7 linked regions of the Homo sapiens genome follow. The protein of the gene in region 7 purifies or fractionates together with the protein of the main gene of each other region. This does not show direct contact. Each region holds a gene or a part of one and is shown on either strand. Other genes may lie near its edges.

Region 1 (3,500 bases), on a different chromosome or scaffold from region 7:
TGCCTCCCCACACTTGTCATCGCCGAGTCACTTGTGGGCACAGAGGAGGAAGTTGCTGAGGAGTGACATCCCAAAACATATCTACAGGGCAAGAAAAAAAACATGCATCCTCCTGCTCCCTCCAGAACAGTCCCCCCAGGAGTGGCTGCCTGGTATATGAGGCTCTGTTTCAGAGCCGAGGATGAACCCAGCTTCTCCAGAACAGATTCCTTGATATTTCAGGGGCAGCATCTAAAAAGTGTTTCGGGTGCAGCAACTGCTTCTCTGCGCTCCGATAAGCGCCAGGGAGAACAAAAGGCCCAGGATACGCCCAAGCAAAAGCCAGTTTTCTGCTTCTTTCCAGGCAATAAACTTCTTAAATGCTAAGCTTCTTAGAGACCCCAGGGGACATACATCTCTTCTTGCCTCTACCTTCCAGGCACAAAACCTTCTGCTCTGTCCGTATCTGTTGCTGGTTCTTCTGTCCCCTGCCCTCCAGGACCACCTGGCTCCCCACCCCGACCCTGACCCTCTGAAACCTCCTCCCTCCCACCCAGGCCGGGAAGCGCAGCCTGCCAGACTCAGACAAGGCCATCCTGGACATCTTGGAACACGACCGCAAGGAGGCCCTGGAGGACAGGCAGGAGCTGGTCAACAGGATCTACAACCTGCAGGAGGAGGCCCGCCAGGCAGAGGAGCTGCGAGACAAGGTGGGAGTGGGGATCGCCCGCCCAGCGGTGCCCTCGGCCGGCCCCCTTCACACCAGGGGGCAGTGGTGTGTGTCAGCAGGACCTCCCTGACCCCACACTCCTTTCCAGGGACTAGATCAGACCCCTGGCATAAATCCCCTGTACCTCCCAGTATTCAGCCCCTGGCAGAAGCTGCAGTTTATCAACCAGATGAGGGCCTGGGGGTGGGAGCAATGTGGGCAGAGGGGAGGGTGAGGGCTTGGGATTGGGGGAACCCACATACCTGCCAAGGTGTGAGTCTCAGAGCCTCACCCACACCTTGCGGATTGCAGGATCCCAGATGTGCCGGCCACCCTTGGGCATGTACAAGCTATTGCACCAGCTTAGCACCTGTGTCCCCCTCCTGACTGAGATCACATTGTCCTCCCCTATGTTACCTGGTCTGTAGTGGGTTCACAACAATGCTGGGTTGATTGGTCTCCTACCTTGAGCCCCAACAGTCAGATAGTCGGTTCCCAGAAGGGCAGGCCATGTCCTGACCATGCCAGCTTAGGGAGGGACAGGCCAGCTCCAGCCAGCTGGCGGGAAGGCACGAGCAGAGAACAGCTTTCAGTCCTGACCTATTGATTGCTCGATGCGCATATTGATTTCTCTGTGTGGTTCACAGTACCTGGAGGAGAAGGAGGACCTGGAGCTCAAGTGCTCGACCCTGGGAAAGGACTGTGAAATGTACAAGCACCGCATGAACACGGTCATGCTGCAGCTGGAGGAGGTGGAGCGGGAGCGGGACCAGGTACAGGCACCACCTGCAGCGTGCAGGGCGGCGAGGCTGCACAGCGGGGCCCGCACCCCAGACCACCGGCTCCTTCAGAGTGTTTTGTCCAGTGCAACATCACTGACAATGCAGGGATCACTCCTGAATCCATCTTTCCCATTTCTGTTCCAAAGATGAATTCTAAAAGATGAATTCCAAAAGGCTTTTTTGGAAGTCACAGGCGTTTGGGTAGCAGGGGGATCCGAGCTGGGCTCCAGCAGCTCCCACGACCAAGCATGGTTCTTAAATGTTGTGTGTTCTCTCGGGTGAGAGGATGGGTTCAGATCCAGCCCTGTCATTCATAAGGTGTATGCCCATAGGCAAGCTGCCACCCCTGACCTCAGTGCCCTCATCTGTAAAATGGGGATAATTACGGTAGCACCGCCTCATAGGGACAGGCTGTGGCCTTCCAGGGACACTGCATCAAAGCTCTCAACACAGAGCCTGCCACTAGCAAGGGTCGGACCATCGGCTCTGTGATCGCGTTAATGAAGAAGGTAGTGACTGACACGCCCAGGGGTCAGACTGCAGACGAGAGCCACAGACGATGTGGCTGGCCCCTGGGTTGGGATGATGCCTGTCCCTGGGCCCAGCTGGATTTGGCTGGGGTGCAACCCCCAAAGCAGCCTTCGTCCCGCTTCTCCCTGGCAGGCCTTCCACTCCCGAGATGAAGCTCAGACACAGTACTCGCAGTGCTTAATCGAAAAGGACAAGTACAGGAAGCAGATCCGCGAGCTGGAGGAGAAGAACGACGAGATGAGGATCGAGATGGTGCGGCGGGAGGCCTGCATCGTCAACCTGGAGAGCAAGCTGCGGCGCCTCTCCAAGGACAGCAACAACCTGGACCAGGTGGGGCGGGACGGGCAGGACCCCACGCCTGAAGCCAGGTGGGCCCTGGTGCCCACTGAGGGCTGTGGCCAGTCCCCACCTCCCCGTGGAGACCCACACCTGAAGCCAGGTGCCCCCTGGCACCCACTGAGGGCTGTGACCAGTCGCCACCTCCCTGTGGGGCCCCAAACCAGAAGCCAGGTGCCCCCTGGCACCCACTGAGGGCTGTGACCAGTCGCCGCTTCCCTGTGCAATGAATGGCTCCTTGTCCTTTGTTTAGTTTTGTTTTGCTTTTGAGACAGGGTCTCACTCTGTCGCCCAGGCTGGAATGCAGTGGCACTATCACAGCTCACTGCAGCCTCAAACTCCTGGGCTCAAGCAGTCCTCCCACTTCAGCCTCCTGGGTAGCGGAACTAAAGGCACACACCACAATTCCTGACTAATTTTGTAATTTTTTTGTACAGACGAGGTCTCACTGTTTCCCAGGCTGGTCTTAAACTCCTATCCTCAAGCGATCCTCCCGCCTCAGCCTCCCAAAGAGCTGGAATTACAGCCGTTTGCCACTGTGCCCGGTTGGCTCTTCATATATTTGAAGCCGGAAGTTCCCTCCCACGCCCAGCATAATCCACATCTTTTACTGTTGTGTTTGTGTCTGTTTAGTGATGAGTGGAAGCCACTCATTTTGAAGTTAGAAGATGCAGGGTAGGGCTGGGCACAGTGGCTCATGCCTGTAATCTCAGCATTTTGGGAGGCTGAGGTGGGAGGATCGCTTTAGGGCAGGAGTTCAAGACCAGTCTGGGCAACAGAGCGAAAATTTTTAAAAATTTAAAAAATTAAAATTAAAAACATAAATAAGAAGATGCAGGGCGCCAGGTGCGAGGGTTCACGCCTGTAATCTCAGCACTTTGGGATGTCGAGGCAGGTGGATCACGAGGTCAGGAGTTCAAGACCAGCCTGACCAGCATGGTGAAACCCTGTCTCTACTAAAAATACAAAAAAATTAGCCAGGCGTGGTGGTGCGTGCCCATAGTCCCAGCTACTCGGGAGGCTGAGGCAGGAGAATCGCTTGAGCCCAGGAGGCGGAGGTTGCAGTGAGCCGAGATCACGCCACTGCACTCCAGCCTGGTGACAGAGCAAGACTCCATCTCAAAAAAAAAAAAGGCAAGCTTGACCTGGCCACTTCCTTGCTG
Region 2 (3,500 bases), on a different chromosome or scaffold from region 7:
AATTGCTCTCCTCTCCCCCAGTAGTTTGTCATGAGCAGAAGTTGTTCAAGAATTGTCTTCTTTTTTTAATTGAATGAAATTATGTACAGTCCATTATCTGAAACAGGATGTCACCGAGTGCCAGAGAAAACAAAGGCGATGAAACCTTTGGGAGGGGACAGTGCCATGGTGTGCACATGCACAGCTCTAGCCTAGTGTATTCTCTTCCTGTTTCCATTTGAATCTGGAGACTCATCAGAACCCAACCCCTTGTTATATTGGAATATAGTTCTTTAGAATGGACAGCTGCTTGAGAGGCTCACCTAGGAAGCTGTTTCTAGCATGTACCTGGGTGTCAAACTTATTTTTTTTCTTTGAGATTGTGGTTATTTTCTCCAACTTGATAGTTACAGTTACATACACAGAATACAATTATGTTACCATTGTGTTGTATTCTAGAGTTAGTTTGTTTTAACTTCTAGCTTTTTAGATGGAGTACTTTTAATGTTTACTCAGGAAACAGTCTCTTAGGCTTGGGGACCTAGACTTGGCTGAGACCTAGTGCCTTAGGTTTTTGAAGCAGTGAGGGACAGAGTATTTCTCTGTATTGTAGTAAATAGGATATATTATTGACAGATGCAAGTAGAGAAAGGGACTTGGCACCTTAAACTTGCCTCATAAGATTCAAGTCTCACTGATAGGGTATATATATCCCTGTGCAAGTGAGAGCCTGTGCACTTACAGAATAGAATCTCATTTGCTGCACAATAGGGTTCTAGGGGAAAATGTCAATCTGGTCATCACAGCTCATAGTTTACTGTCATTTCAAATAGGCTTTATTGATCTCATGGCAATACTTAGTTTCAAGGTGTGGGTGGAATATCAACTCAGGGAAGTGGCTTGTGGATACAGATGTGGATGAGATAGAGAAAGCTGTAATCTCTGTTCCACATACCTACTTTAGTAATGAAACACTGTAATAGGTCTCTCAGGTGATCTTTTAATGCCTTGGCATTAGCTGAATAAATTCATCAAAATTTAATTTTTTTTAAACTGATACAGGAATTCATGAAGATTACCAACTGCCTTATTATGATCTTGTACCTTCTGACCCATCAGTTGAAGAAATGAGAAAAGTTGTTTGTGAACAGAAGTTAAGGCCAAATATCCCAAACAGATGGCAGAGCTGTGAAGTGAGTATTTCTTTTTGATATTAGGCAATTTTCTAAACTGCTTCTGCTTAGTAAGCAAAAGTTTGCTACTTTTCTTTAAGGAAAACTTTTCTTTAAGAATTTTCTTTTTCATAGCAGTCAAACCAATGTTTAAAAACAGAATAATTTGGTTTTCATATTCAATTGTAAGCACATTGAAAGGGCCATGGAACATTTGCAGTGGCCTTTAGTGTATCAGAACATAGTTTAGATCTGCCGGGCGAACTAAGGCACATATTTTTAAATGAATGCCTCCCTTCAGCCGGGGCAACCCAGAACACTAGACAGTTACCGGACATGAATGAGGAGCCCTGTATTCTAGACCAGCCTGGCTACCATTTCAAGGGTCTGACTCTGAACAAATCCCTTTAGTTCTCTGGACTTTAATATCCCTTTGCAAGGTGAGGAACTCAGATAAGGTGATTACAAAGGTGTTTCAAATGATTTTCCGTTTTATTCATCTGATTGCCCAGATAACCGTTAACCAGGAATTTAGGGAAAATGCTTTTTTCCAGCAGTATCTGAGCTGCTCAACTTCAGCTCTAACAAAAAGTTTTAGAAACGTTTTTGTAATTGTAAATTTAAAGATTCGTAAGATGAATTTTATTTAACCTCTCCTTAATTGCTAGCTGTTACTATTACAATATTGGTGAAGCAGAGCATATTCCTCCAGGTTTGAAGATTTGTAGCTTAAAAAGGCTATAAAAAGCTGTTCAGTTCAGTAGTTGATTTTACGTCTTAAACTATTGTAGGACTCAGCAGAACCTCTGATAAGCAAGAGAGCTTGCTACCTCCAACAAAATCACATCTCCAGGCCCAAATAAATAAAATGTATTTCAGCATGCTTAAGGAATTTGCATGTGACATAGTTTAATAAATGAGAGTGCTGCTAGATTTTGTCTTTTAGAAATTTGATCTACTTGGGAGGCTGAAGTGGGAGGATTGCTGGAGCCTGGGAGGTCAAGGCTGCAGTGAGCTGAGGGCATGCCATTGCATTCCACTTTGGGCGGCAGAGTGAGACCCTGTCTCAAAAAAAAAAAAAAGAAAGAAAAATTTGATGTGAATACTTCAAAGTACAAACTTAAAATTTCAGTGTGAGGTCAGATTTCTTCTTTGCTTTGCCCAGCTCTGGTTTAGGATTCGGCCTTTTCAGGTTTGCTAAATGAGTCACTCTTTGTCCACCTGCTTTCCAGCACTGGCACCAGTACCCTATTGATGGAAATTTATGTAATTTCTACTCATTTGCTATTACAAATAATGCTTAAACAATAACAAGTGTATATGTCATTTAAAAAGAAAATTTACACGTAAAAATTCTTATCCAGACCAATGGAAAATGGTGCATGCATTAATTTTTTTTTTTATATTTTCTTGTAGGCCTTGAGAGTAATGGCTAAAATTATGAGAGAATGTTGGTATGCCAATGGAGCAGCTAGGCTTACAGCATTGCGGATTAAGAAAACATTATCGCAACTCAGTCAACAGGAAGGCATCAAAATGTAATTCTACAGCTTTGCCTGAACTCTCCTTTTTTCTTCAGATCTGCTCCTGGGTTTTAATTTGGGAGGTCAATTGTTCTACCTCACTGAGAGGGAACAGAAGGATATTGCTTCCTTTTGCAGCAGTGTAATAAAGTCAATTAAAAACTTCCCAGGATTTCTTTGGACCCAGGAAACAGCCATGTGGGTCCTTTCTGTGCACTATGAACGCTTCTTTCCCAGGACAGAAAATGTGTAGTCTACCTTTATTTTTTATTAACAAAACTTGTTTTTTAAAAAGATGATTGCTGGTCTTAACTTTAGGTAACTCTGCTGTGCTGGAGATCATCTTTAAGGGCAAAGGAGTTGGATTGCTGAATTACAATGAAACATGTCTTATTACTAAAGAAAGTGATTTACTCCTGGTTAGTACATTCTCAGAGGATTCTGAACCACTAGAGTTTCCTTGATTCAGACTTTGAATGTACTGTTCTATAGTTTTTCAGGATCTTAAAACTAACACTTATAAAACTCTTATCTTGAGTCTAAAAATGACCTCATATAGTAGTGAGGAACATAATTCATGCAATTGTATTTTGTATACTATTATTGTTCTTTCACTTATTCAGAACATTACATGCCTTCAAAATGGGATTGTACTATACCAGTAAGTGCCACTTCTGTGTCTTTCTAATGGAAATGAGTAGAATTGCTGAAAGTCTCTATGTTAAAACCTATAGTGTTTGAATTCAAAAAGCTTATTTATCTGGGTAACCCAAACTTTTTCTGTTTTGTTTTTGGAAGGGTTTTTGTGGTATGTCATTTGGTATTC
Region 3 (3,500 bases), on a different chromosome or scaffold from region 7:
TCAGATGTCAATTACAGGGTTAAGCTGCATAGAGTTTATAATTAGAATAAATGGTTAAATAGGATATAAGAATTTTGCCACACCCCAACATTAACCATGCATTCAAAATGGACACATAGAATTTATTACTACTAACACCTTGTGTTACAGGGAGAGCGAGGAGTACAGAGGGAATTCCTACCCAAATGAAGGAATAATATTTCCTCATTTTTCCCTGACAGAGAATATTGAAATTGAACATAAAGGGAAAATTCACAAAATGAATGACTGGCAGATTTATTGGCCCATTTTTATAGAATCAAACCAGCTTTAAGAATTGTTGGGTAGAACATGATCTCTACCTTAGGAAGCTATAAATACATTTCTCCTCCCCTCAGTACATCATTCAGAATGAATTAAAAATATCAGAAAACAAAATATAAAAGGACAGTTTCTTATATTCATACAATGTGAATGTAAAAGACACTGTATGAATTGTTTTAGTGCAGCCACTAAAATGGATTGGCTGGCTTTGGTTTTAATGAGAAATAACAAAAATTAAAATGCTTTTGAAGAAAAGGAATATGCAATTTAATTAAATATATAGTTTTCTGGTAGAGATATAGCATTCATTCCTAAAATGATTCATTAACAAATTATTTATTAAAGATGGCAAAAAGCCATTTAAAGGACTATAAAATGTGTTCAGAGCAAACTTAGAGAGTCTGCTTTTGCATTCATTAGTATATTAAAAGAGATAAGAGTAACTTATACATGAGGTGAATGTCCCCATCTCCTAAACCTGTGTAAATAATCATCTTCCTTTTATTCTGGTTAAATAACCAGTGTCAATAACAATGTGTTATGCTTATTACTGCATTATGAGATTATAAGTAATATGCATCTGAAATATGAAAATATGATCTTATCAAACCCATTGATTTGTTGTATAAAAAATTCACACATATACAAATATTAGGGATTCTTTAAATAGAAATATCCCCAGTGTGATTAAGAGTTTGTCTATTTATCTAAAAAGATATATAGATATCAAAAGCTAAAAGGTTGAACAGGTTGAGAAACCTAAAGCTAAAATGTTAGGAACCACTGTTTCCCTCTGCATTTCCAAGTCACATATGATAAAAATCCTTAACTATTATATTATAAATTGATAGGATAAGAAGAGATGCTTTAAAATTTCTTAAAGGATGTAAAAGTTTCTTAAAGCAAATCATTAAATTTCCTTAATTTGAAAAATATTAATCACCGTGGGGCCTCAAGTTTATTTTCACCACAATTATGAGAGAAGAATAAAAATCACAGTTTAAAATGTAGCTTCAAAATTCTGGTTGACTAATTTTGTGTCTGAGACAAGGTTAAATCTGAGCAGAAGCAACTTTACTCTACCTATATATATCGTGCTTGATACTGGCCCTTGATTTTTGTCCAGGTTCATAGTTTTCAGGTGGCATATAGATAATTGTCCCTCCTTCTGGTGCAGATTTGCTACTTCGTGACTGTGAGAGGGACATCATGCGCCACTTTGATAAACCAAAATCTGCAATCTGTAAGGGACAAGAGCAAATAATTAAGAAATTTCCTCTTTAAAAAGTCCAAAAGTCAACTATCTTTTTGTATATTCACTGTATTTAGATATCAAACCAGAGAAAATGTAATATATTTTAATATTTTATTTCTGTATATTCCCCCAACTTCTTACAAAATTAAATTCCACACTGCTGAGCCAAATAACTCTAGGAGCAATACATACTGAGTTAAAGTTTAATATAACATTACAAATTTCAAAAGAGAGACTAATTTTTGAAAATTGAGCAGAGGCATTTTTTGTCTGATATTCTCAATGAGTGTGTACCTTGCACACCTTACTTTTCATGACATATAGCTTGATACCATGTGCTTCCTACATCTCACAGAGCTGCCAAGTCTACTCACATCTCATGCAATTGTCACTGGTCATTGTTTACAATTCTGGTTTATACAGTTGTATTAATAATGCCCTAAAGGTAGCATCCTTAAATTAAGAAATACACTAAATCTCAAAATTGTAAAGGTAATTATTATACAATTTTATGCTGATCACTAAAAGAAGTATTTCATGGAAACAGTATAATTGCAAAGAAAACATATTTATGTCCAATACAATGGGTGCCTAAAGAATTATCAGTGACAATATTCTGTGCCTTTGATATGTCCTGTACAGTTTTGCTTCAGTTGTAAATCTTATGCACATATTATACAGTATCTTATAACTAAATATTTAAAAGCTTCCTTATTTTTTACTTTATTTTTTAAAAATGTAAGACAAAATGTAAGAACAGAAATAATATTTAATTGACAAGGGAGTATGGGAAATCCTAAAAGACACTGAAATTACTTAAAATATTTTACTGCATACTTTAGAATTCAGCAGAGTGAAATGAGCTCCATGCAGCACATCATTTGTTTCCATTGTTTACCTCCTATATTTTTTACCAATTTTAACAAAATACATAATTTTTATTAGCATTTAGATGAATTTGAGATAAAAAAAATTATGGCCTCCATTCCCAAAAAGGAGGGGTAGAATAAATGAATTTTTCATTCATTTGCTACAATAAAAGAGTCAATTTAAGAAAAAAAATAAAAATAATCAAGAATTTTAAAATTGAATTCACAGAAAAGGACCAAGATGACTAAGTCATGAGAACAGCTGAGAAAAGCAGTTAAGCAAAGACTTTCAGAAAAATTTTTAAGGACAGAATGAAGAAATATGGGCTGTATAATAGCACTTTTAGGAGTATTCCAGACAAACTGAATGAGTGTTCTCCAAAAGCGCGGATTAACAAAAGGACTGATATTGACCCAGATGAAGGTTCTTATGGCCATGTGATACAGCTCTGATTCAAGCTCTGTACTGGTTCATATTTAATCATGACTTAAAGATACAAAAAATTAGCTAATTAAATTTCAGCATCACACAAAACTTGGAGAGAAACTTAAAACCTTTGGATTATAGAAATAACATTCAAAAAGGTCTTAAGAGACTGAAGCAATTGCTCCAATCTAACAAGATAAAATTTGATCATATCTAGAAAGTATTCTGCAAAGTACATTATTTTGTGTACTTTGTTGCTTAAGAAGAGGTGGCTTAAGCAACGATACGTGGCAAAAAGAACCTCCAAGGGTTTTTTGTTGACACTAAGCCCAATTTGAACTATGTGATATGACTACCCCTGGAAAGCTGATGAATTATTAAGGAACTATTAAGTATTTAGGGCCAAGGAAATGACACTTTCACTAAAGTCTGCATTCATCAAACCGCACCAAAAATAGTATTGTGTTCAGTTCTGACGATCAACATTTAAGTGAGATTTAAACAAAATGATGCATCTACATAGCACCAAGGATTAAAATCCATGTAATAAGAAAACGAGTTGAAGGAACTAAAGGGTATTTATCAGGGAGATGGATAAAATGCACTTGTACGTGAGGGTTTGGGAGACAGCTCATAGCTATCTTCA
Region 4 (3,500 bases), about 87 Mb from region 7:
CCATTCTCCAGCTATGAAGTACAGGAAACAAAATTTCTGCAGACACAGAACCCCTATCAGTGAGGACAGAATTCTGAATGCTCTGAGGCAGCCAACTTTCTGGGGTTATCCACTAAGTGAGGCGTCCACTTCAGCTGCCGTAGCCCATCCAGGGTTAGTTCTGGCTGACGTAAATCAAGCTGCTCAGAAGGTCGATCCTGGAACACTGGTGGAGCGCCTGGGCCAGCTTCCCCACCGTGGCTCCCTTTATGCCTTCCCTCATCACCCACTTTTGGAGCATCTGGTAAACCTTTTCTTTCAGTCCATCTCGCTCATAGTCATGGTCAATTTCATCAATCTGAGACTGTGTGAAGCCCAGTTTACGGGCACAGTTTTTCCAGTGCTTTCCCAGATTTTCCCTGATTGGGTCCAGGTGTTTATCCGTCAGACTAGTGGTATTATCTGCCAAATGGGAAAAAGAAGAAGGTATCAAGCTAAAACCCATTCAAACATTCCAGCTTCCTGAATTGCTAAAAAACCCAAGTGAAATGAAGAGTACCAGAAGACAGTGAAAAAGATAACTTCTTAGTTATATAGCTGTTGATGCACTGGCAGACATTTCACATGCCTGCTAGCCCACATGGAGTCTTTATGTGAATTAGAATAGGGCATTCCCGGCCTGGCGTGGTGGCTCATGCCTATAATCCCAACACTTTGGGAGGCCAAGGCAGGAGGATCACTTGAACCCGGGAGTTCTAGACCAGTCCTGGGCAACACAGCAAGAACCTGTCTCTACCAAAAAAAAAATTTTTTTTAATTAGCTGGGTATGGTGGCACATGCCTGTAGTCCCAGTTACTGAGGAGGCTGAGACAGGAGGATCACTTGAACTCAGGAGTTCGAGGCTGCAGTGAGCCATGACTGTGCCCCTGTACTTCAGCCTGGGCCACAGAGCAGGATGTTGTCTCAAAAACAAAACAAAAAAGAATAAGGCATTCCTTCCTCCTAGTAGACACATCCCTGAGCCACAGCTGATGGCTCTGTGAACAAAACCCCTGTGTGGCTACGAGGTTGGGTGTTCTAGTCAATCTTAGCCAGTGATCCTGTTGGTATTAGACCTTCCTGGGTGTAAAGGGAAAACCACCATTTTTGTTCCTTTTAGACATTCTCCGCTTACATCTGGCCAGAGTTAAAGCCGCTCAACTCCTGACCACCACCCCGGCCCAACAGTTCACTTTCCTCTTACTTAATCAAGGAATTGTCCAGCAGGCGTGAACCCATTCAGTTACAAAGCCTTCCTTGTCTTTCAAGCGACGAGGTAACTATACTCTTCAAGGTCTGTTTTTGGACCCTAACCCCTCCTTTACTCCACCCCACTGCCGACCGACATTGCCTCTTCTCCAATAGCCATAACCTCTCTCCTTCTACTGGTTCCTTCCCTTCGCCCTTCATAAAAATAATAAAAGGAAACAAATGAAAATGTACAACAACCACAACAAAAAAAATTCCTTAATCCCCACACTACCTCATTAAACAGAATATAAGGAAGAAAACATTTCATTCTTCCTTCCCACCTCTCTTCTTTCCTCAGCCCTCTGTGATGTGGCTCTCTCTCTATCCATATCTTATAGATTGTCAGCAGTCCAAGAACTTCCCAAGATATTTTCCAAATTTTGTCAATATTTCTGTAGGGGGTAGATCCTGGGTTTCATTAGATTCTCACAGGTGCCCCTGACCATTCGCAAGTTCTGTTCTAGGTATTTTAAAAGCTGTCCTTCAAATGGGTTAGACCAGGGGTTGGCCAACTATGGCCTGTGGGCCAAATCTGACTCCTGCCAGCATTTGTAAATCCACTTTTATTGGAACACAGCCGTGCTCATTCATGTACATATTGTCTGTGGTTGCTTTTGCACTACAATAAGAGAGGTGAGTAGTTCCAAGAGACCTCAAAGCCAGCAGGGCCTAACATTTACTATTGGTTCCTTTACAGAAAAAAAAAAAAAAAGCGCCAATCCCATGGTTAATTAGAAAGCTGAGTTCTTAATCAAGTCGTTTTGGCCTCATGACTTTTTCCAGACTGTACTTTGGGATTAGCATTATGGGCTGCACCATAGAACCCTATAAGAGATAGCCCTCTTGATTTTATTACAGAAGTGCTGTGGAGGGCACAGTCTTCTATCTTTTACAGGATCTCCTTCGATGAGGGCCTGACACAGCTATTTCTTCTGGGTCTGAGAAGTAATACTGATGATGATGATGATGAAAGTTTAACACTTTTTATAGAACTTACTATGTGCCAGGCAGTGTTCTAAGCTTTTTATACATATCAACTCATTTAATTTTCACAACAAATCCATAAATTAAATACTGTGATTATCTCCATATTAAAAATAAATAAATGACAAAGGAATTATATGGAAATTACAAAGATATTTTGCAGAAGTAACATAAGAAAACTTTCAAGAAGAATTATCAGAGAAATTTTAAGATTCCACTATGTCCTTCTCACAAGTAAGAAAGTTCAAGGTTGCTAGGCGTTGAGTCCTTCCAGGGTATCTTACCAAAGATAGCTTGGTACTTAGCAGCTGGCTCTTCTTTGAAGTTCGTATTTGTGCTGTCTAGTAGTGATGAACTCGTCCCACCAATCTCCATATAATTGTAGGCTCCAATCTGAATGCCAGTACTATTGTATATGGTATATTTTATAGATTCATCTGCATAGAGAGAAACACACAGGTAAGTAATTCTAGATCAAAAGCAAGAGAAAAAAATACAGCATGGCAAAAAAGCAGGGCTTTATGCCAAACATTAAGTTAATTATCCTATGCCACCCTTTAAACTTTTCTTCTTTCAAATCTGGCTAAACCACCTCATACCCATTAGGATGCCTATGATTAAAAAAAAAAAAAGAAATAACACATATTGACAAAGATGTGGAAAAAATGAAGCCCTTGTGCACTGCTGGTGGGAATGTGAAATGGTGCAGCTGCTCCTATAAAGAGTATAGTGGGCCAGGTGCGGTGGCTCACACCTGTAATCCCAGCACTTTGGGAGGCTGATGCAGGTGATCACCTGAGGTCAGGAGTTCAAGACCAGCCTGGCCAACATGGTGAAACCCCTTCTCTACTAAAAATACAAAAATTAGCCAGGCGTGGTGGTGGGTGCCTGTAATCCCAGCTACTCAGGAGGCTGAGGCAGGAGAATCACTTGAACCCAGGAGGCGGAGCTTGCAGAGTGAGCCAAGATCGTGCCACTGCACTCCAGCCTGGTGATAGAGTGAGAGTCTGTCTCAAAAAAAAAAAAAAAAAAAAATCGTGATTCTTCAAAAAAATTAAAGATAGAATTACCATATGATCCAGCAATTCCGTTTCTGAGTATATACCCAAAAGAACTAAAACAGGGTGTTGAAGAAATATTTCTACCCACGTGTTCACTGCAGCATTATTCACAATAGCTAAAAGGTGGAAGTAAGCCAGGCACCCATGAGCAGATGAGTGGATAACCCAACTGTGGTCTAGCTACA
Region 5 (3,448 bases), on a different chromosome or scaffold from region 7:
GTCCCTCTTTTCCACTTGCAGGTGTACGAGAGGCTAGAGAAGCTGCAGGCAGTGGTGGCGGGGGTGCCCGGGCATTCGGAGGCCGCCAGCTGCATCCCCCCTTCCCCGCAGGAGAACTCCTACGTGTCCAGCACTGGCAGAGCCCACAGTGGGGCTGCTCCATGGCAGCCCCTGGCAGCGCCATCAGGAGCCAGTGCCCAGGCAGCAGAGCAGCTGCAGAGAGGCCCCAACCAGCCCGTGGAGAGTGACGAGAGCCTAGGCGGCCTCTCTGCTGCCCTGCGCTCCTGGCACTTGACTCCAAGCTGCCCTCTGGACCCAGCACCCCTCAGGGAGGCCGGCTGTCCTCAGGGGGACACGGCAGGAGAATCGAGCTGGGGGAGTGGCCCAGGATCCCGGCCCACAGCCGTGGAAGGTAGCTGGGGAGACGGGTTCCCAGGAGAGGGACCAAGGCCTCTTTGGGCCAAAGCCCCTGTAAGTCCCCACCCCAGCCTTCTAGAAGAGAACCAGGGCCAAATGTTCAGCTCACTGTGACCTTAGCAACCCTGGTTTCCCCTCCCCAGGCCACATCCTTCCCAGGTGGAGCTTGCTCTCCAGCCCTCCCCCCACCCCATTCCTGAAGGCTGGGAACAAGGAGGGCTCTGTCTGGTAGCCTGAGAGCTGGGCCCTGCCCTTGGACTTCTCTGAGGAATTCAGGCCTGAGGCCAGGGAGGCAGGGTGCTAGGCTGCGGGCTGGGGAGCCACAGCATGAGGCTAAGGGAGTGCCATCTCCACCCCAGGACTGGCCCTTGGCAGCTCTGCATCATCGTCGTCAGAGCCACCGCAGATTATCATCAACCCTGCCCGACAGAAGATGGTCCAGAAGCTGGCCCTGTACGAGGATGGGGCCCTGGACAGCCTGCAGCTGCTGTCGTCCAGCTCCCTCCCAGGTGCTGCCGCCCAGGCTGGCCTCTGGGGTGCTCAGGCGCATCCGTGTCAGCCCCAAAGAGCAGAGTGTCTGTCCCGACTGCGCTGAGGGCGTGGGGCAGCCGGGCAGGCCACTGGCTCTGGCGACCTCTAGAAGCCCAGCCGGCCCCACATGCCTCCCTTAGCAAGACCCTGGCCCACTCCTTCCCTCGCCTCCTGACAGTAGCACCTCCTTTAGCCCGAGGGTGCCTGCCCCACTCTGTGCTTTCAGGAAATAGGAAGCCCCAGCAGGAATTTTCCATCCCAGGTACTATTTGAAGAACCACTGCTTAGGAACCCTCAGCTGGGCGAGGTGGCTCATGCCTATAATACCAGCACTTTTGGAGGCCAAGATGGGAGGATCACTTGAGCCCAGGAGGTGGAGGCTACAGTGAGCTGTGATCAAGCCACTGCACTCCAGCCTGGGAGACAGTTAGACCCTGTCTCAAAAACAAATGAACAAACAAACAAAAACCCTCAATTCCCACGAACGCCCCAGGAGATAAGGGAGCATGGCCCAGGCCTTGAGCCAGGGCTTCTGGCAGTAGGGGAGCCTCCCCCATTTGCTAAGCGGACTTTCCTCTTCCTTCTGTAGGCTTGGGCCTGGAACAGGACAGGCAGGGGCCCGAAGAAAGTGATGAATTTCAGAGCTGATGTGTTCACCTGGGCAGATCCCCCAAATCCGGAAGTCAAAGTTCTCATGGTCAGAAGTTCTCATGGTGCACGAGTCCTCAGCACTCTGCCGGCAGTGGGGGTGGGGGCCCATGCCCGCGGGGGAGAGAAGGAGGTGGCCCTGCTGTTCTAGGCTCTGTGGGCATAGGCAGGCAGAGTGGAACCCTGCCTCCATGCCAGCATCTGGGGGCAAGGAAGGCTGGCATCATCCAGTGAGGAGGCTGGCGCATGTTGGGAGGCTGCTGGCTGCACAGACCCGTGAGGGGAGGAGAGGGGCTGCTGTGCAGGGGTGTGGAGTAGGGAGCTGGCTCCCCTGAGAGCCATGCAGGGCGTCTGCAGCCCAGGCCTCTGGCAGCAGCTCTTTGCCCATCTCTTTGGACAGTGGCCACCCTGCACAATGGGGCCGACGAGGCCTAGGGCCCTCCTACCTGCTTACAATTTGGAAAAGTGTGGCCGGGTGCGGTGGCTCACGCCTGTAATCCCAGCACTTTGGGAGGCCAAGGCAGGAGGATCGCTGGAGCCCAGTAGGTCAAGACCAGCCAGGGCAACATGATGAGACCCTGTCTCTGCCAAAAAATTTTTTAAACTATTAGCCTGGCGTGGTAGCGCACGCCTGTGGTCCCAGCTGCTGGGGAGGCTGAAGTAGGAGGATCATTTATGCTTGGGAGGTCGAGGCTGCAGTGAGTCATGATTGTATGACTGCACTCCAGCCTGGGTGACAGAGCAAGACCCTGTTTCAAAAAGAAAAACCCTGGGAAAAGTGAAGTATGGCTGTAAGTCTCATGGTTCAGTCCTAGCAAGAAGCGAGAATTCTGAGATCCTCCAGAAAGTCGAGCAGCACCCACCTCCAACCTCGGGCCAGTGTCTTCAGGCTTTACTGGGGACCTGCGAGCTGGCCTAATGTGGTGGCCTGCAAGCCAGGCCATCCCTGGGCGCCACAGACGAGCTCCGAGCCAGGTCAGGCTTCGGAGGCCACAAGCTCAGCCTCAGGCCCAGGCACTGATTGTGGCAGAGGGGCCACTACCCAAGGTCTAGCTAGGCCCAAGACCTAGTTACCCAGACAGTGAGAAGCCCCTGGAAGGCAGAAAAGTTGGGAGCATGGCAGACAGGGAAGGGAAACATTTTCAGGGAAAAGACATGTATCACATGTCTTCAGAAGCAAGTCAGGTTTCATGTAACCGAGTGTCCTCTTGCGTGTCCAAAAGTAGCCCAGGGCTGTAGCACAGGCTTCACAGTGATTTTGTGTTCAGCCGTGAGTCACACTACATGCCCCCGTGAAGCTGGGCATTGGTGACGTCCAGGTTGTCCTTGAGTAATAAAAACGTATGTTGCAATCTCGGGCTCTACTTGTGGACTTTGTTGCACCGAAAGCCTTGAGCTTTCCTGATGCCTTACACTTCAGGGTTCTTGAGCGTCCAGGGTCTTGTTACTACTCTGGGCTGGCCACACCCAGCACTTCCCGTGTCAGGTTTTTCCTGATGTAGTCCATGTTTTTTATGCTATTCTAAATGGTATCTTTGATTTTCTAGTTCATCATGATATTATACAGAAATGCAATTGATGCTGGGCACGGTGGCTCACGCCTGTGATTCCAGCGCTTTGGGAAGCTAAGGCGGGCAGATCACTTGAGGCCAGGAGTTTGAGACCAGCCTGGGCAACATGGCGAAACCCCGTCTCTACAAAAAGTACAAAAATTAGCCAGGCATGGTGGTGCATGCCTGTAGTTTGAGCTACTCAGGAGGCTGACCCAGGAGGATAGTTTGAGCCCAGGACGTTGAGGCTGCAGTGAGCCATGATTCCACCACTGCACTCCAGCCCGGGCAACAGAGGGAGA
Region 6 (3,500 bases), on a different chromosome or scaffold from region 7:
GGCAGGGCCCTCAGGGTGTGAGCTAGGCAGTCACACTGTCCAGGCTCATGTTCCAAGCCTTCCACTTACATTATGGGCAGTTGGCCCAGCAATGAGCCTCAGTTTCCTCCTCTATGAAATGGGGAGAATCACACCTGTCTCACAGGGTTGTGGTAAGGAGTCAATGAAATGGAGAATGCTGGCGCTTAGCAAAGTGCCTGACATGTAGTGAGTGTCGATAAATGTCAACTGCTGTCATCATCAGCACCATCATCATTATTTGTCCTTAGACATCAAATGCCCCGGCCTGGCCCAACACATTGTGCCCACCTCTGCCCCTCACCTTTCTGACTTCACCTCCAGTCCTGCCCTCCCACACAACCTTGCATTCCATCTTGCAGAATGACTCGTGCCTTCACCATCCACCAAGACCTGTCACCCCCTAGGCCATTTCCCTCCCTGAATATGTCCTCCAGTGTGACAGCCAGCACAGCCCCATGTCTTTGGGCTCCCAGTAGGCAGGCGGGCAGCTTAACCCACAGGACCTCAGATCCCTACAGCACAGAGCAAGCTGGAAAAGCTAACAGTGGGCCCTCAGCGGGGAACATTCCACGCATGGCATCCCTGGAAGGGACCAGGATGACACAAAGGGAAACACTCCATTCACCTACTGAGGCCACCCAGAACTCACACCAAAGTCCTTCAAGACCTCACTCAATGTCCTTGGCATAGGAAATCCCCAATTTCCTCCCCAAATCCTTCCGCTCCTTAGAATTCTAAAGCATTGGACACATTTTCCAACACAGTCCTTTTGCACAGTCATGAGTAGCAGGGACCTTCTCACCACCCAGTACCAAAGACTGCTCTGGGATATCCGGTCGGAAATCTCAGACACAGGCCCAGTGAGGCCCAAAGGCAACAAAACTAATGGCCTTGGGATCTCCTGAGACTTCCCAGCCTCTGGATTGAGGGAGAGGCCTCCTGACAGTGCTTGGGGGTCTGGTCCTTTCAGCCTGAGCCACACCAGGCCCCCTCTGGAATGGCTGGGATCAAATGAGATTACATCTGCAAACACCTTAAAACTGTAAGGTATGCACATGCACAGACACACACACACACACACACACACACACACACACACACACGGACTTTCCATCATTAACAATAGGGAGAAAGAGGATGCCAAAAAATTACCCATCTGTCCAGACAACCAACGCCAATGGAATCCATCTGAGGGCTGGCAGTGACACAAAATCGCAAATTCAGAAATACTTTTAAGCCCCTTGCTTCAAAATTATATGTGGCTTTCACTCATGTAGGTGCAGAGGAAAAAAGAAAGGATTGAAATTTTAACTTGCGTTCATCTGGTTGGGCCTTTGAGGGAAATAAATTATTAGAGAAGGAAGTACCCTAACGAAGGGAGCCACCAAAGACCAGAAGGCACTCAGGAATAGGACCCAGAAGACCTGGACCCCAGGACCACCGCAGCCCAGGACCAGGTTGCCCATTGTGGGACCCTGTATGGCAAGTCACATTCCTGCTTCCGCTTCTAGCCTCCCCATCTCTGCAACAGTCATACTCTTGTAAGCTCCCATGCCTTGGTGAGAAGGGAATGGATAGGCAAAGGCTCTGGGCTGGGGAAATGGCCAGGCAGCCATGAGCAGCCAGTGCTGCATTATCCTTAGAGTTGCAGAGAGACTACATCAAGAACGACAGGACTTTAGGGGAAATACATTTATTGAAGGTACATTTGGCCCTTGCAGAAAAGTGGGGGACAAAACAGTGATGAAGAGCACAAACCCTGGAGACAAACAGCCCATGGCTGTCCCAAGAGAATGCATATAAAGCGGCCAAGTGGAGTGCCGGCCATAGCATACACTCAATAAATGGCTATGATTTTGGCGACTGCTACCATGGCATGGATGTGGGGTGAGGGAAGAATGTCTCAGATGGAGACACACAGCCATCCAGACATGCCCACAAGGTATGCAGCCCCAGCCTGAGGGGCTGTCAGTCCCAGCCAGCATGCCACCAGGCCACCATGCCACCAGCCATGCTCCCAAAGGGCCCCACAGACCTTGGTCCTGGCCCTCGATGTCCCCAGTCCAACACCAACCTCTCATTTCTCAAGGAAAGTTTGATTCAGGTATTCCTCCGGATGTAGGGGTCCCTATGACCAGCTTCTAACTGCAGGGGACAGAGGACTCCAAACCACGGTTCCCTCGGCTTCCTATCCCAGCATCTGCTGCTCAGGGAGAGACACAGAAACCACTGGCTTTGCCAAACTCCTCACTTGCCAGATCCTCCCTGCAAGCTCATTCAACCGGCTCCAATTCCCCCAATCTTCTGACCCTTCACATTGGTCCCTCCCCTGGAGTGAGGACAGGAGGAAGACAAATGTATACCACATCCACTTTGCTGCCTCTCGCAGCTGGGGGAAGAGGATCTCTTTCTAAACACGAAAGGGAGAGCTGTGCTGAGCTTTTATCATTTCCAAGTGAGACAAGAGAGAGACAACTGGTTAAAACGTGGTAGACAGGTGCTTTAAAAGTTATCTTCAGGTTTCACTCATACAGACTGTTCTTAACCCCAAAAACACCAGGGACTGAAACATTGGCAACCTTCCCATCCAAGGATTGGAGGAAAAGGGAAACAAAAAGAAGAGGGGAAGTCAAAAAGTCTTCCACCAAGCCCCCTCCGCAGCTGTCCCCTTCGATAAATTTCAACACAACAGCAATGCACAAGAAAAAATGCTGACCTGAGAATTCACCCGGAGCAGTGATGAGGGAGTTGGTAGCCTCCGTTTCAGTGTAAGACAATGTGGAATCGGACAGATCTGTGGGAGGAAAGAAAAAGAGAACTTAGTTGGCCGTGGGGCAGCGCTCTCTTTTTTCTTCTTTCTCATGCATCTCTGTACATGTGCACGTGTGTGGATGTGTGTGCTTGCAAAGGGCAGCATGTCCCTCCCAACTTTCTGATGTCACCCTGTAACCCCATCTCAGGATCACCCCAGACCAGACCAGCCAGCCCAGGAACTCTTCTGGAAAGTGCTGACTGTGGTGAAGCTGGTACCTGAAAACGCTGCCATTGCCCTGACCACAGAAATAACCCAAGTTCAGGGGACCGAGCAAGTAGCAACTTGGAGCCTCCGTGGGTAAGGTTAAATTAAGCCCCTAAACAATTCATAGTTGCTGTACTTAATTACAACCATTAAAATTCTTGAAGTTGTTCCTTCTTGCTTCCTTCCTTCCTTTCTTCCTTCCTTCCTTCCTCCCTCCCGCTAGGGCTGGGGAAACTGTTTTAACAAGTCACCAGCCGTCCTCACTCTGTCCCGCTTACACCCCTCTAATTAAGGGCTCAAGCATTTGCTCCCAGATTAACTTTGTTTTTTCTCTCCCCTCCCCCACTCCCTAACATCCAAACCTGCTCACAAGAGCAACTTTTAATGCCTGGACTGTTTTTTTTTAAGGCGTTCTTTTTTTTTTTTTTTTTAAGTAGTTTTAAGTACTTCATATGTACAT
Region 7 (3,500 bases):
TAATTAGAAACTGTAAAAAAAATAATAATTCAACTACAGGCCAAATATGCAGCCATTTAGTAGATACATATTTCTAAGACATTAGCTGATCTTGCATTTCTAATATTGTAACTCAGTAGTATTAGTTTGGCACATCTTAGATTCAATTCAATTCAGTCAAATTAGGTAAGGTCTCAGCCTCAGAAATCTGCCTAGGTACTTTTTAAACATCATTTAGTGTTTACCATCTAGAACTGGCTGTAGAGAATGTTGGAATAAAAGAGGGGATGGGTTGCAAGAAGTGTTACACAGGGTAGTATAGTGGAAAGTGTTCTGGACTGAAAAAGAAAATTTAGATGCTGTACTGATTCTGCCATAATATATTTTTGTAACTTTGAGGAAGTCACCACATTTTTCTGGGCCTGTGGTTACTCATGTAAACTGACTGAACAAGATCATTTAAGGTCTTTTCCAGTTCTAAAATGAAAACACATTCATGTTTTCCAGTATTTAACTGTTTTCTATAGTAAGCTTAGCAGTTCTTTAAAGACTGATCATGGTCTCCTATAGAATTCAGTTGGTGACCAACTAATCCTGGGTTGACAGGGCAAATGATATCCCATTGTACAGATATTGACAAGCAGTCATAGAGTTTGACTTGCCAGAAGCCGCATGCCTAAGTAAATGGTAAAGCTGGGAATTGAATATGAGACTTCTCACTTGTGAGTCAGTTGCCCTTTCCACTGGATTTACAGTGTCACTCAGTACTTTCTGAAGTACTCTATAACCAAACCTAATATGGGAAAGGGGAAACAAAATACTGATTTCCTTTTTAGTGTAGTTGGTCCTGAGCATTTAATGAACATTCTCATCTGTGCGTAATACTCTGAGGTACTATAAAAGATAAATAGGGCTTGGTGCGGTGGCTCACACCTGTAATCCGAGCACTTTGGAGGGCCAGTGCGGGCAGATCACTTGAAGCCAGGAGTTCAAGACCACCCTGGCCAACACGGAGAAACCCCGTCACTACTGAAAGTACAAAAATTAGCTGGGTGTGGTGGCACAGGCCTGTAATCCCAGCTACTTGAGTGGCTGAGGCATGAGAATCGTTTGAACCCAGGAGGCAGAGGTTGCAGTGAGCTGAGATCATGCCACCGCACCCTAGCCTGGACAACAGAGGGAGACTCTGTCTCAAAAAAAAAAAAAAAAAAAAGATGATAGAAGAATCCTAGGATTACCTCCTTAAAATGTCTGACTTAGTATGATATCAGACTGGAGTAAACACAGAACAGTTAACTATAGACCACAAATTTAAAACTGAATATAGTGTAAATTAAACACTTAAGCCATAATTTGAAAATAGAGTTAATCACAGAAGGTTCCATTGAGTAGGGACAAGTTTAAAACTAGGTTTTGAATAAAGTGACCATCGTGGGTTGGGAAAGTCACTAAGATGAATTTTCTTTGTAGTTGTTCCTCTGCCTAAAGCGCTGTTCCCCCATAACTTAAGATGACTGACTCCTCACCAGTCAAGTCCCACCTCAAATGTTATTAACACTTCCTTAGAGAAGCATTCCCTGAACAACCTAGATCTTTTGTCATTTCTATTATCTTTCATGGTACTTACCAGTAACTGAAATTGTGTCTCTCCTTCAGCAAAATGTAAGGCGCTTTATTCACTTTTGTAACCCCAATGCCTAGAACCTAGAAGGTTCTCTATACATATTTGTTCAATGAGTACATGAAAGTATCACAGCATAATCATAAGAATTAAATGCCCATCTTGTTCTCTTATATTACATGTGATAAAATAGGAGCTGAGTTATGCGATTTGGCTAAGGCAACACGTTAGAAATGAGATCCGAGTCTTGTTTTAATGTCGACTCTATTATAGTTAGCAGATACTTTTGTTTAGCAGGGATAAAAAATGCTGTAAAGGGCCAGATGCTATGAGTAAGCCACGTATGGTAGGTCTTTACTACAGAGTGCTAAAAAGACACTATTTACAATGGTTGCTTTTGAAAAGGGAGACCCATAATGCTGACCTCAACTATAGTGTAGGAACAAAGCTATAGTATTGGACACATAAAATTACTGCAGCATTTGTATATATTCTTCAGCTTTGTTAAGGAGACACACAAAAGTTTTGTTTTAAAAGCTAAAATATGCTACAAAGAGGAGATATAGATAGAACTTAAACAGTTATATGTACTTTGTAGGTTTAAGTTATAAATATATGGGGAATTGGTATTAGAGAAAAACCTAATTTATAGTGGTCTAAACAAACTGAGTACATAGATTTGTTAGTCACTATTTAATTATGGATACCTAAAATAATCAATACATTCTTTCATGTGAAAGTGACCACTGATTTCAGTAGAAATCTGGAATTACTATAGTTAAGAGGTAGCTACAGAGATAATTTTTGCATTGTACACGTGTAGCTTAAAAGATAGCATGAGCATATTATTTGAAATAAAAGCCTAGAAAATGGGTGAGATGTACTGTGGCAGGTATTAAAAGACTGCATGAAACATTCAGAAGAAAGTTTGAATAATCAAAGCTTTACTTTTATGTTATCAAATCCATCTTGTCAGCAGATGGCAGTTCCACTCTGCCACAGTTTATTAATAGATATTGAAGTTCTAACATAGTTGGAGGCTCCAAGTCCTAACTAATAAATGTATGATCTATGCTTGTTCTGTCTTGTTCCGCATTTCCAGCCAGAACAATGCCAGCATCACCAGGGGTCCATTCAGATAGTTCATAGAACAGGGCCAAATGAAACTGACAGCTGTAGTCACTGAACTAAAAATAACATGAATTCAGAACAATTAAAAGAATTATTTAATAATAAATTAAGAGCACAAAGGCATACATCCTTTTCCATTTAGGTTAGGTGTGTGTTTGGTTGTTTTCTTTAACATGACTTGTCTGAAGGAATGGAGTCATCTTACATCATAAAGAAATTAATTTTTAAAGGAATTTCTTTAAAAATAACACACAAACACACAAAACCTGATTTTTGTTTTTGTGCCTTTCAATAGTAGTTGCATGGAAATGTTCTATATACCATCTCATATTCTTCTGTATTTTTTATTAAGAAATTAAATTTAAATCTACTTAATTGTATGAGACTAAAGTTGTAGACCCAAAACAAAGAGGTTTCAACCATAGGGGGAGAAATGCTTATCATAAAGTAATTAATCAAAAACATTTTGATTTAGAAAACATTCATAAATTTAGAAGGAAATATTTCCAAATTGACCTCCCTTTTAAAACCAAAGTCCTTTTTGCATTCCTCTGTTTTTTACAAATGAAGGATTATGAAGAATATCTGAAATATTTATTTGTATGTCACCATTTTAGTTGGATGTGTGTGATGGGGAAATACTTGTAACTTGATATGTTCTCTTTTTTACTCTTGATGAAAATTCATCTTTGGGGAAAAAACAGTCATTTAAAATAATGTTGGGCTAGGTACGGTGGCTCACACCTGTAATCCCAACACTTTGGGAGGC

What was found.
Region 1: the proteins of MAP3K7 (region 7) and CARD11 purify together in Homo sapiens (affinity purification with western blotting; 3 studies listed by BioGRID). This does not show direct contact.
Region 2: the proteins of MAP3K7 (region 7) and TGFBR1 purify together in Homo sapiens (affinity purification with western blotting; 3 studies listed by BioGRID). This does not show direct contact.
Region 3: the proteins of MAP3K7 (region 7) and RIPK2 purify together in Homo sapiens (affinity purification with western blotting; 4 studies listed by BioGRID). This does not show direct contact.
Region 4: the proteins of MAP3K7 (region 7) and RIPK1 purify together in Homo sapiens (affinity purification with western blotting; 5 studies listed by BioGRID, with this or other methods). This does not show direct contact.
Region 5: the proteins of MAP3K7 (region 7) and IRAK1 purify together in Homo sapiens (affinity purification with western blotting; 5 studies listed by BioGRID). This does not show direct contact.
Region 6: the proteins of MAP3K7 (region 7) and SMAD6 purify together in Homo sapiens (affinity purification with western blotting; 2 studies listed by BioGRID). This does not show direct contact.

What each region holds. Positions count from the first base shown.
Region 1 is NC_000007.14:2,935,868-2,939,367, reverse strand, and holds part of CARD11 (caspase recruitment domain-containing protein 11), read left to right. Parts: intron 1-536; coding exon 537-689; intron 690-1,335; coding exon 1,336-1,461; intron 1,462-2,133; coding exon 2,134-2,331; intron 2,332-3,500. UniProt on the Homo sapiens protein: Adapter protein that plays a key role in adaptive immune response by transducing the activation of NF-kappa-B downstream of T-cell receptor (TCR) and B-cell receptor (BCR) engagement.
Region 2 is NC_000009.12:99,146,613-99,150,112, forward strand, and holds part of TGFBR1 (TGF-beta receptor type-1 isoform 1 precursor), read left to right. Parts: intron 1-1,041; coding exon 1,042-1,172; intron 1,173-2,567; coding exon 2,568-2,693; 3' UTR 2,694-3,500. UniProt on the Homo sapiens protein: Transmembrane serine/threonine kinase forming with the TGF-beta type II serine/threonine kinase receptor, TGFBR2, the non-promiscuous receptor for the TGF-beta cytokines TGFB1, TGFB2 and TGFB3.
Region 3 is NC_000008.11:89,767,816-89,771,315, reverse strand, and holds part of RIPK2 (receptor-interacting serine/threonine-protein kinase 2), read right to left. Parts: intron 1,545-3,500; coding exon 1,387-1,544; intron 1-1,386.
Region 4 is NC_000006.12:3,109,994-3,113,493, reverse strand, and holds part of RIPK1 (receptor-interacting serine/threonine-protein kinase 1), read right to left. Parts: intron 2,692-3,500; coding exon 2,539-2,691; intron 442-2,538; coding exon 155-441; 3' UTR 1-154. UniProt on the Homo sapiens protein: Serine-threonine kinase which is a key regulator of TNF-mediated apoptosis, necroptosis and inflammatory pathways.
Region 5 is NC_000023.11:154,010,007-154,013,454, reverse strand, and holds the end of IRAK1 (interleukin-1 receptor-associated kinase 1), read left to right. Parts: intron 1-21; coding exon 22-412; intron 413-776; coding exon 777-926; intron 927-1,537; coding exon 1,538-1,596; 3' UTR 1,597-2,948; downstream 2,949-3,448.
Region 6 is NC_000015.10:66,715,736-66,719,235, reverse strand, and holds part of SMAD6 (mothers against decapentaplegic homolog 6), read right to left. Parts: intron 2,816-3,500; coding exon 2,738-2,815; intron 2,228-2,737; exon of another isoform or gene 2,096-2,227; intron 1-2,095. UniProt on the Homo sapiens protein: Transforming growth factor-beta superfamily receptors signaling occurs through the Smad family of intracellular mediators. SMAD6 is an inhibitory Smad (i-Smad) that negatively regulates signaling downstream of type I transforming growth factor-beta.
Region 7 is NC_000006.12:90,580,573-90,584,072, reverse strand, and holds part of MAP3K7 (mitogen-activated protein kinase kinase kinase 7), read left to right. Parts: intron 1-3,500. UniProt on the Homo sapiens protein: Serine/threonine kinase which acts as an essential component of the MAP kinase signal transduction pathway. Plays an important role in the cascades of cellular responses evoked by changes in the environment.